Linked DNA regions of Homo sapiens: region 1 is linked to region 2. The links come from fine-mapping of genetic effects on gene expression. A gene starts in region 2. The other region holds a variant in brackets. All regions are shown on one strand. Distances are from middle to middle. Region 1 overlaps TRPC3 (transient receptor potential cation channel subfamily C member 3). Region 2 holds the start of SMIM43 (small integral membrane protein 43).

Evidence for each region. PIP is the estimated chance that this variant, and not a neighbour inherited with it, causes the effect. A credible set is the group of variants that fine-mapping cannot tell apart.
Region 1: its variant is the best candidate, but not a certain one, in a credible set for the expression of SMIM43 in blood mononuclear cells (TOPMed, PIP 0.81).

Annotation. Positions count from the first base shown.
Region 1 is chr4:121,892,702-121,897,938 of GRCh38, forward strand. The region is part of intron 10 of TRPC3 (transient receptor potential cation channel subfamily C member 3); the gene reads right to left. Among named protein-coding and RNA genes, the nearest start is that of BBS7-DT, 25 kb to the left of the region's middle. The variant C/T (reference allele first, on the strand shown) is at 2,932.
Region 2 is chr4:121,762,120-121,767,356 of GRCh38, forward strand. SMIM43 (small integral membrane protein 43) reads right to left here and starts at 3,045. Exons shown (of 6, transcript NM_001384332.1): 1 at 2,698-3,045; 2 at 1,645-1,753; 3 at 608-679. The coding sequence starts at 2,986. The coding sequence ends at 2,795. It overlaps PP12613 (a long non-coding RNA gene), which reads left to right and starts at 2,466. Exons shown (of 1, transcript NR_024365.1): 1 at 2,466-4,689.

The sequences.
Region 1 (5,237 bases), 130 kb after region 2:
GACCTAATAAATCGAAAAGTATATCCTTAGAAAAGAAAACACAACATTATAAAGCATCAATTTGCCTTAACGTGATCAAAATAAAGATACCAGCAGACAAGCCCACCTTAAAATTCAAATAGAGAAATAAGGAAGAGGTTGGGTGCTGGTGGCTCATACCTTTAATCCCAGCATTTTGGGAGGCTGAGGCAAGTGGATCACTTGAGGTCAGGAGTTCAAGACCAGCCTGGTCAACATGGTAAAACCCAATCTCTACTAAAAATACAAAAGTTAGCTGGGTGTGGTGGCAGGCACCAGTAGTCCCAGCTACTCGGGAGGCTGAGGCAGGAGAATTGCTTGAATCCAGGAGGTGGAGGTTGCAGTGAGCCGAGATTGCACCACTGCACTCCAGCCTGGGCAAGAGAGGCAGACTCTGTCACAAAAAAAAAAAAAAAAAGAATGAAAGGAAAAATAATAGGAAATTCTGTAAAATAAAAACCCTGAAGTAAGGATGTGTATGTGTGTGTGCGTGTGTGCGTGTGTATGTACACACGTGCAAGAATGCACATGTATGTGTGTTTTGTTTGTTTGATTTTTGTCTTAAACTATAATAATTATGATAATGTGGTTCTACAGCATGAATAGATCAGTGGAACAGAATGAAAAGCCTAGAAATAAATTTATACAGGAATTTAGTAAATTATTAAAGTGGTATTTCAAATCAATAGAAAAGATAGATTATTCAACACACCCAACTGTATAATAATCTGGAAAGACAACATATTTGGATTCCCATCCTACAGGTTAAATGAAAATATATTCTATATGAATCAAATATTTTCAGAGTCCAAAGAAGTGAAAGAACTAAAGAAATATGAGTTAAAAATATTAAATAATCTCCTATGGGGGAAAAATCTTTCCAAGTAGGACACAAAACCTGACGCCATAAACAATTTGTAACGTTGACTATACAAAAATAAAAAAAGTTGTGAATGGGAAAAAATACTTTAAATATTAAAAAGACACACAATAACCTGGTAAAAAACATTCTTAAGTCATAACACAAAGGCTAATATTGTTAAAATATGAAGAATTCCTCTTCATTGATAACAAAAAGCCCTTCAAGTAAAGCAAATATATATGGAGACATAAGGATATATAACATTAAACATAAAAAGGAAGGTAAAACTCATTCATGATAAAGAAATGCAAAGCAGCACATTTTAACCTATCTGGTGAAGATAAAAACCTTTGGTAACACACTGTTTGTAAATTAGGGAGGAAATAGGTGCTCTCATATATTTATTGTAAGAATGTAAGTTAGTACAAGCTCCATCAGTTTGATAATAGCTAAAAAATTAAAATTCAAATATACTTTAACCAGACAATTCCATGTATTTGTTCATGATTGAGATGTTATATATACAAAATGACTTACTACAGTGTTGCTTATAATAGCTAAATATTAGCAATATCCTCTATTTTCATCAATAAAAGAATGATTAAATAAGTATAACCATATGATGGAATACAATGTAACTACCAAAAGTAAAACTTTAACTTTAAAAAGAGACAAAGAAAGGCATTATATAATAATAAGGGGATCAGCTCAGCAAGAGAATATACCAGTTATAAATATACATGCACCCAATACTAGAGCACTCAGATATATAAAGCAAATATTATTAAGTCTAAAGGGAGAAATATATCCTAATATAATAATAGTTGGGAACTTCAACCTCACTCTCAGCATTAGACAGATCATTCAGACAGAAAATCAACAAAAAACCATCAGATTTAAACTACACCAAGACCAATGGACCAAAAATATATTTACAGAACATTTTACCCAACAGCTGGAAAGTACACATTCTGTTTTTTTTTTTTTTTTTTTTTTTTTTGAGACAGTGTCTCACTCTGTACCCTAGGCTGGAGTGCAGTTGTACAATCATGGCTCACTGCAGTCTCAACTTCTTGGGCTCAGGTGATCCTCCTACCCCATCTTCCCAAGTATGTAGGATTACAGGCATGTGCCACTATGCCTGGCTAATTTTTTTCACTTTTGCAGAGACAAGGTCTCACCATGTTGCCCAGGCTGGTCTCAAACTCCTGAGCTTAAGCAATCCTTCTGCCTTGGCCTTCCAAGGCAGGTGTGAGCTACCAGACCCAACCCCAAAACATATATTCTTTTAATCAGCACGTGGTACATTCTCTATGATTGACCATATGTTAGGACATAAAACAAGTCTCAGGAACTTAATAAAATCAAAATTATATCAAGTATTTTATCTGACCACAATGGAATAAAATTAGACATCATAACAAAAGGCACATTTGAAACTATGCAAATACATGAAAATTAAACAACATATTCCTGAATGACCAATGAGTCAAGGAAAAAATTAAGAATGAAATTTTAATATTCCTTGAAATGAGTGAAAATAGAAATACAACATACCAACACCCATGCAACACAGCAAAAGCAGGATTAAGGGGCAAGTTTATAGCAATAAATGCCTACATCCATCAAAAAACTAGAAAGATTTCAAACAATCTAATGATGCACATAAAGGGAAAAAAGCATAAAAAATGCTTGAAAAAAGCATGCAAGAAAAGCATGAACAAATCAAACCCCAAATTGGTAGAAGAAATAATAAAGATTAGAGCAGAAATAAACAAAATTGAGACTAAAATAAATACAAAAAATCAACAAAACAAAGTTTTTTTTAAAAAGATAAACAAAATTGACAAATCATTAGCTAGAGTAACTTAAAAACAGAGAGATATGACTCAAATAAATAAAATCAGAAAATGAAAAAGGAGACATCACAATGGATAATAGAGAAATATGAAAGATCACTAGAGACTACTATGAATAACCATATGCCAATAAATTAGAAAACCTGGGAAAATAGATAAAATCACAGACACATTCAATCTACCAAGATTGAA[C/T]CAAGAAGAAATAGAAAATCTAAACAGACCAAAAACAGGTAACAAGATTAAATGAGTGCATAAAACATCTCCCAAAAAAATAAAATAAAGTCCAGGACCAAATGGTTTCACTGCTGAATTCTACTGAACCTTTAAAGAAGAATTAATACTAATTATTCTCAAACTAATCGAAAAAATTAAAGCAGAAGGAATTCTTCTTAACTCACTTTATGAGACCAGTATAACCCCAATACCAAAATAAGGACACAATAAAACTACAGGCCAATATCCCTGATGAACATAGATGTAAAAATCCTCAATAAAATATTAATAAACCAAATCCAAAATCACATCAAAATCCCACTTGATAGTGGGACTTATCCCAGGAATGCAAGGATGTTTCAACATACAAAAATCAATAAACATCATACATCACATCAACAGAATGAAGGATAAAAACTGTATGATTATCTCAACAGATGATAAAAGCTTTTCATAAAATTCAATATTCCTTTATGATAAAAAATCTTAATAAATTAGGTATAGAAAGAAAGAATCTCAATGTAATAAAGGCATACAACAAACCCACAGCTAACATCTTACTGAACTGGGAAAAGCTGAAAGGTTTTTTAGAAGTGTAACAAGACAAGGATGCTCACTATCACCACTCTTATTCAACATAGTATTGGATGCTCTGGCCAGAACAATTAGGCAAGAGAAAGAAAGAAGGGTATCCAAATTGGAAAGGAGGAAGTCAAATTGTCCCTGTTTGCAGACAACATGATCGTATACATTGAAAAACCTACAGACTCTACCAAAAAACTTTTAGAACTGATAAACAAATTCAGTAAAGTAGCAGAATACAAAATTAACATACAAAAATCAGTTGCATTTCTATACACGAACAACAAACTACTTGAAAAAGAAAATAAAAAAGGCAATGCCATTTACAATACTCAGGTATAAATTAACCAAGGAGATGAAAGACCTCTTCAAGGAAAACTACAAAACACTGATGAAAGAAACTGAAGAGGATACAAACAAAGGGAAATGTACCACATGCTCATGGATCAGAAGAATTACTACTGTTAAAATGACAACGGTACTCAAAGCAATCTACAGATTCAATGCAACTCCTATCAAAATACCAATGACATTATTCACAGAAATAGAAATAATATCCTAAAATTTGTAGGGAATCATAAAAGACCCCAAATAGCCAAAGCAATCCTGAGCAAAAAGAACAAATCTGGAAGTATCACACAATCGGACCTTAAAATATATTACCAGGCTGTAGAAACCAAAACTACACGGTACTGGCATAAAAAGACACATAAACCTATGGAACAGAATTAAGAACTCAGAAATTAATCCATGTGTCTATAACCAACTGAGTTTTTACAAAGATGCCAAAAACACTCATTGGGAAAAGGACAGTCTCTTCAATAACTGGTGCTGGGAAAACTGGATATCCATATGCAGAAGAATAAGACTAGACTCCCACTTCTCACCTTGTATAAAAATCAGGGCAAAATGGACCAAAGACCTAAATGTAAGACCTGAAATGATAAAACTAGTAGAAAAAAACATAGGAGAAATGCTTCAGGACACTGGTCTGGGAAAATATTTTATGAACAAGACCTCAAAAGCAGAAGTAACAAAAGCAAAAATAAACATATGGGATCATACCAAACCAAAGGCTTCTTGGTTTGGTTCATACCAACAAAGGAAAAAACAACAGTGAAAAGACAGCCTACAAAATTGGAGAAAATATTTGCAAATTGCTCATCCAATAGGGGATTAATATCCAGAATATACAGGGAACTCAATCATCTCAACAGCAAAAAAAAAAAAAAAAAAAAAAAAAAAAAAAAAAAAAAATTCCAATTAAAAATGGGCAAATAATCTGAACAGACATTTCTCAAAAGAATACATACAAATGGTCAATGATATATGAAAAAATGCTCGACATCACTAACCAAACCACAATGAGGTTATCATCTCACTCCAGTTAGAATGTCTACTATCAAAAAGACAAAAAAAAAATGCTGGTAAGAATGCAGAGAAAGGGAACTCTAATATGTTGTTGATGGGAATGTAAACTAGTACAACCATTATGTAGAACAGTATGGAGGATTTTCCAAGAACTACAAATAGAGCTACCATATGATCCAGCAACCCCACTACGGGAATTTATCTAAAGGAAAAGAAATCATTATATCAAAGAGACAACTGCACCCACATGTTTTATTGCAGCACTATTCACAATATTCAAAATATGAAATCAACCTAGGTGTCTAACAGCAGATGAATGTATAAAAAATGTA
Region 2 (5,237 bases):
GTGCTTTAATGTCTAGCTCATATATATACAGTCTTTAAAAATAGATTTGGCACATAGTGATTGTCAGAACAGGGGATCGTCAGGGGATGGAGTAGCCAACATGTAGAAGCCTGCAACCTAGACCATTGTGGGTGTCAGAGTATTTGATCTAAGCCAAAAATGCATAAAGGTGGCCAAAATTGTGAGTTTGAAAGTAGTTCTAATTTGAGAGATCAGTCTATGTCAGGTCTTGGAAAAATGATGATTGAATAAATAAATAAACAGCAAAAGACAGCTCATCTACAGCTGTCAAAGTTTCAAAAGCAGAGTCTCTAACAAAGCAAGTGCAGGGCAGGAGATCAACAGCAGCAAGATCTAAGAGCAAATGTGAGTTACCTTAATTCCCAGAGCTTAGAGTCAAGTTCCAAGCAGAGGTTGAGTAATAGGAATAAATATTCATTGTGGCCTGGATAAATGGGAACTTGGTCATTAATGAATTTGATTACAAGGAGTTAATAAAATGGCCCTGGATACAAGATAGAAAGGCACCCCTGCTTTCTTAGGAACCTGAGTCAGTAGAACCAGCTGAGAGATTGGATTAATACTGAGATGGTAATAAACTACTCACCCTGACTTTTCAATAGTCTCTTGTTTAGGAAGAATGATGGGCAGGTTAAATTCATGGATACCAGTGGTGCTGCTAGGAAGATTAAAGGATTGTAAACTCAAGAAGGCAAGCATGTGGTTAAAATAATTTCCATTCTGGTTATTCTAAAGTGTGAAATGATTGTTTTCAATCCTTACAAACAACTATAATTGCTAATTAATTACTCCCACACTCATCTTCAATGTCCATATTAACCATACAACCTTTTAACTAAATGCCACTGCAGAGATATCAACCAATTAGAGAACTATTGTTCAAAGCACAATACAGAATCACTGCAGTTGATTCAGGGAGTTCAAACTGGGAATTCAAATCAAGTCTTACCATAACTCTGATAAAGAGGTGAGGATTTGCTCATACCATAATAATTAAAGTAAACCTCTTACTTCATTAAGAACAGGCCTATTTGGGGAGAGTGAAATAGAAAGTGGGAAATTATCTAATGTCTTGGGCCAAAATTATTCACCTGAGACTATTTTTCCTTTGAAGCATTAAAATAATTGTCTTACACTTCACTTTTATATTATCAACTTAGGCAAACTTTAGTATTTCATTGTTTTTAGCCTCTCTATATGGTCTTTGTGTCTAAAATTAGTATTTTCAATACTATAGTTATGACTTAGCTTATCCCACACTGACATGACTAAACCCAAATCTTCCCTTACTGAAGATTGAGTATATCTGCATCACATATTTCACCCCATGAACCCCCGCACTGTTTTTCAAAAGGGCCGAATGATTATTAAAAGTGCAAACACTCCTGACATCTCATTCAAATTTCCACAATCCTCTACTAAGACACTGATTCTTGCAATGAGTTAGGAGTCAGTTTGGCTTTGTGGATCTGGTAGAAGCTCACCAGATTTGAGTGGGAGAGTGCCCTTTCCTTCCTTGTACCCATTTCCCCCATCCTGAACCAACATGTTTTTAGGCCCTGGATCTTTAGAAGTTTAGTCATAACTAAGGCCAACGTGAAACCATGCGTCATCCCAACTTACCATTTGCAGAAAGCTTCCATCTCCCGTTGTTCCAGCCTTCTTTTTGCAGGCCCAAACTGTCATTGCAGCTGTGGTCCCCTGAGCACCAGTCAAGGGCAGCAGCTCGGCTCTAGAAAGAGAGATGACATAAATCTAGGGAAAAGCTACTGAAGGATGAAGATATTTCCCAAACTAACATTAGCGAGAGGGTACTTAGGGCATACTGGTACTCGAGTTTGCTCCTGCCCGCCCATCTTCTGCAAAAGCTCTAGTAATTTAACCTGAAACCACAGACCCGCCTCTCCGTCCTTTTTCCTGTTTCCCTACACTATGCAAACAGTACCTCTTTTAGCTGGCCCTCCATGCCATCACCCAAAAGGTCACGTACCGGCCAACCCTAAGGCATCTTCCAAATGACTCTCACTGTAACGTTCACCATCCGCTGTCCCAGATTCGAAACCTACCCTGCACGGCAATCCGCAAGCACTAACCGTGGTTGGTGGCTAGAATATGAGTAAGGATCACCGGGAGGAAGGGATTCCTCCCTCCAAATGGACGACTGAATCTTCTCTCCCCCACGCCCCACCCCAGCACCACCAGACGAACCCCATTTACCATCTCTCAAAGCGCAAAAATATTTAAAGCAATATTTAAAATACTTTAAGTGCGCCCCGTTTCCTCCTGCCACCCGTCCCAAAGCCCACACAGTCTTTCTCAAAAATGTGGATATTCAGGTTAACCTGCGATTTTGTTCGAAAGTGGCTAAACTGCATTATCCGAATAATTTACTTTTCCACTCCTTGGGTATAACTAAAATGCAGTTGGACAGAAAAGAGCTTGCAGTTGTCCAAAGTCATTCCGGCTCCAAAGGGCGAATTCTCTTTTCGCCATCTCTCCCAGCCCTGGAACAGCTTAGGGTCCCTCTCGAAGAGCACAGCGCCAGCCCAGACCCCATACACCCACCGTCCCTGGCACCCGAACGCGCTGCGAGCCCCGGGCCTCCCACAGGAGCGGAGACGCGGGTCCCTGCGCCTCACGCCGGAACGGACCCGTCAGAGCCGCCGAGCCCCGCACCTGGAAGCTGGGAGGCCGCGAGGACGGAGAATCGAGGCGGAGACCCAGCCCAGCGCCCGCGCAGCTCGGTGCCCTCCCGCCAGTGCCCGCACTCGGGTCACACCGCTTGCTCTCGGGAGAAGCCCCAAGGCTCGCGGTGCACCGAGAGGCGCCCGGGCTGGAGCGCCCCGGCCGTGTTGGCCACGGAGTTCTTCAGCTGCTTGATGACCACGAAGAGCAGGAGGAAAAGTAAGAAGAGCAGGAAGAAGAAGAGCGCCAGGTAGAGCAGCAAGTTGAGTTCCCACTCCATGCTGGAGGCGCCGGCGCTCGCTGGCCCTGCGCGCTCGGCGCGGGCTGCAGCTGGAGGGCGAGCGCGCCGCCCGCACACCCACCTCCCGCACTCCCGCCCCTCGCGAGGGCGTCCCGCTATGGGCGCCGACTCCGGGGTCCGTGCTTTGCCTCCCCCGGCTCCGAGGAAACGCGCCAAGGAGCTGAGGAAATCCGGCGCAGACTCTCCCAGCTGGCACCAAAGCCTTCCGCTTCGCCGAGATCCTCTCAGGTGCTCTTGAGGACGCGAGCGACTTCCCTAGGAGCGAACTTCCGCGGGCACGGACGCCAGAAGAGGTAACAGCTCAGTCTTCCAGGGGAGGTCGGGACTGGTGTTTTGTAAATGATTTAAAAGTTCCACCCCCAACATCCAGTAGGGTCCCTAGCTCCGCTGCGTTCCCAATTAATTTATTTCGTTATATCCCTCCGTTCCTGCTTTCCGAAAGGACAGGGGATGTCATGGCCCAGAGACCCAAAAGAATGAAAGGTGGCAGTGAAGATGGGGTCTGAAAGGCTATGAGATGATTTCGTGCTATGAGGTGTCTGAGTGAATTCCAGTTCGAGCTGTCTTGCTCTTCAGAGTAGCAGATACATTCAGTGTTGAGTGTACTTTTCTATGGACAACAGGTCACTTGGAAACGCATTAAGAATACAATGTATTTCAGAAGTTATATAGCACAAAGATTTCAAATATTGGCCTCAAATTCAGTTTATTTGGTGAAAAGAGGAAAACAAGTTTACTCAAAGTGTTTCTTGAGTCCCTAAAGCCTTTCTGTATCTGGTTGACGTGACCCAAAGCCCATATCGCGCAGCTTTAAAAGCTGTTCAGTGTATCTATTACTGCAGAACAAATTACCCCCAAATTTAGTGGCTTCAAACAGCATAAACATTGATCATCTCTCACAGTTTCTGTGGGTCCGAAATGTGGGAGCACTGGCTGGGTGATTCTGGTGTCGGGTTACTCATGAGGCTCCGTTCAGATGTCAGCCAGGTCTGCCTTCAGCTGAATGCTTGTGTAGAGGTGGAGGATCCACTTCCAGGGTGGCTCACTCACTGCTTGCCAGGTAGGGCTGGTTGTTGGTGGGAGGCCTCAGTTCCCTTCCATGGGTGCTTCCAATACAGCTGCGGGATTCCCCCAGAACAAGTGATGAAAGAAAACAAAGCAGAGGCTGCAGTGCTCTTTACCGCCAGCTTCAGAAGTCACGTGCCATCAGATCTGTAATATCCTACTGGTCACACAGGTCAGCCCTATTCAGGGTAGGAGTCCAAGGACACGAACGCCAAGGAGTAAGGATCACTGGGGCTCATCTTAGAGTCGGCTATGACAGCTGTTAATACAGCCAGCTATCATTGCCCATTTGTAGGCCTAACTTTATTTTATTCTTTATTTGTGAAGATGCAGAATTGCCTCCTGGACTGAATTCTGGGGATGAGGGCTGACAACATCCCAGATTGTAATAAGTGGCTGCTCCAGGGATGACAGGGGTTCAAAGAGACAGGGTGGTATGAAAACAGTCTGTGAACTGCAAGTCTCATGGACCCGATTCTAGTGTCAGCTCTGTCAGTGGTCACTTTTGCTCAGTGACTCTCAGTCCCCTCATCTGTAACATGCCTTGCTTATCTTTCCCTTGGATTTGTTGTGAGGCTCAAAAATGAGAAAATGTTAAATAAAAATGTGTTTTGCTATATAAATGTCAGATACTGTTATTATTCTATTACGAAGGGCCCCCAATGCTACAAGCTATTGTACAAAATTTCCAGGCCCTAGGCCTCTCCATCAAGCATCTTAGTGCATAAGTGAGAAGAATCTTTCTTTCATTTTCTCTTTGTCTCTCTCTCAATAACATTATATTGATCCACTTCATAGGCAGTGGTATGCTGGAGCTGGCTCGTAATGACTCACAGGAGCTGATTGTTAAATTTTGTAAACCAATTTTTAAATTCCAGCTATTATTAAAAGTTAAATTATATAAACCTACAATTATGTTAACAACAAAGGTAATTAATACTCCAAACTCATCACTTTCTAATTATTTTATTAGGTTGGTAAAAAGGCAATCACGGTTTTTGTCATTAAAAGCAAAAACCGTGATTGCTTTTGCACCAACCTCAGTACTACATTTCACTGCTGTCTATGCACTTGAGGTTATTTACATCTGTTGTAGCTGTGTGGTGAAGATGCTGCATAGTGGTATGTTACTGCGCATCTCTTCCCAGCTGTGTTCAGTGCTGTC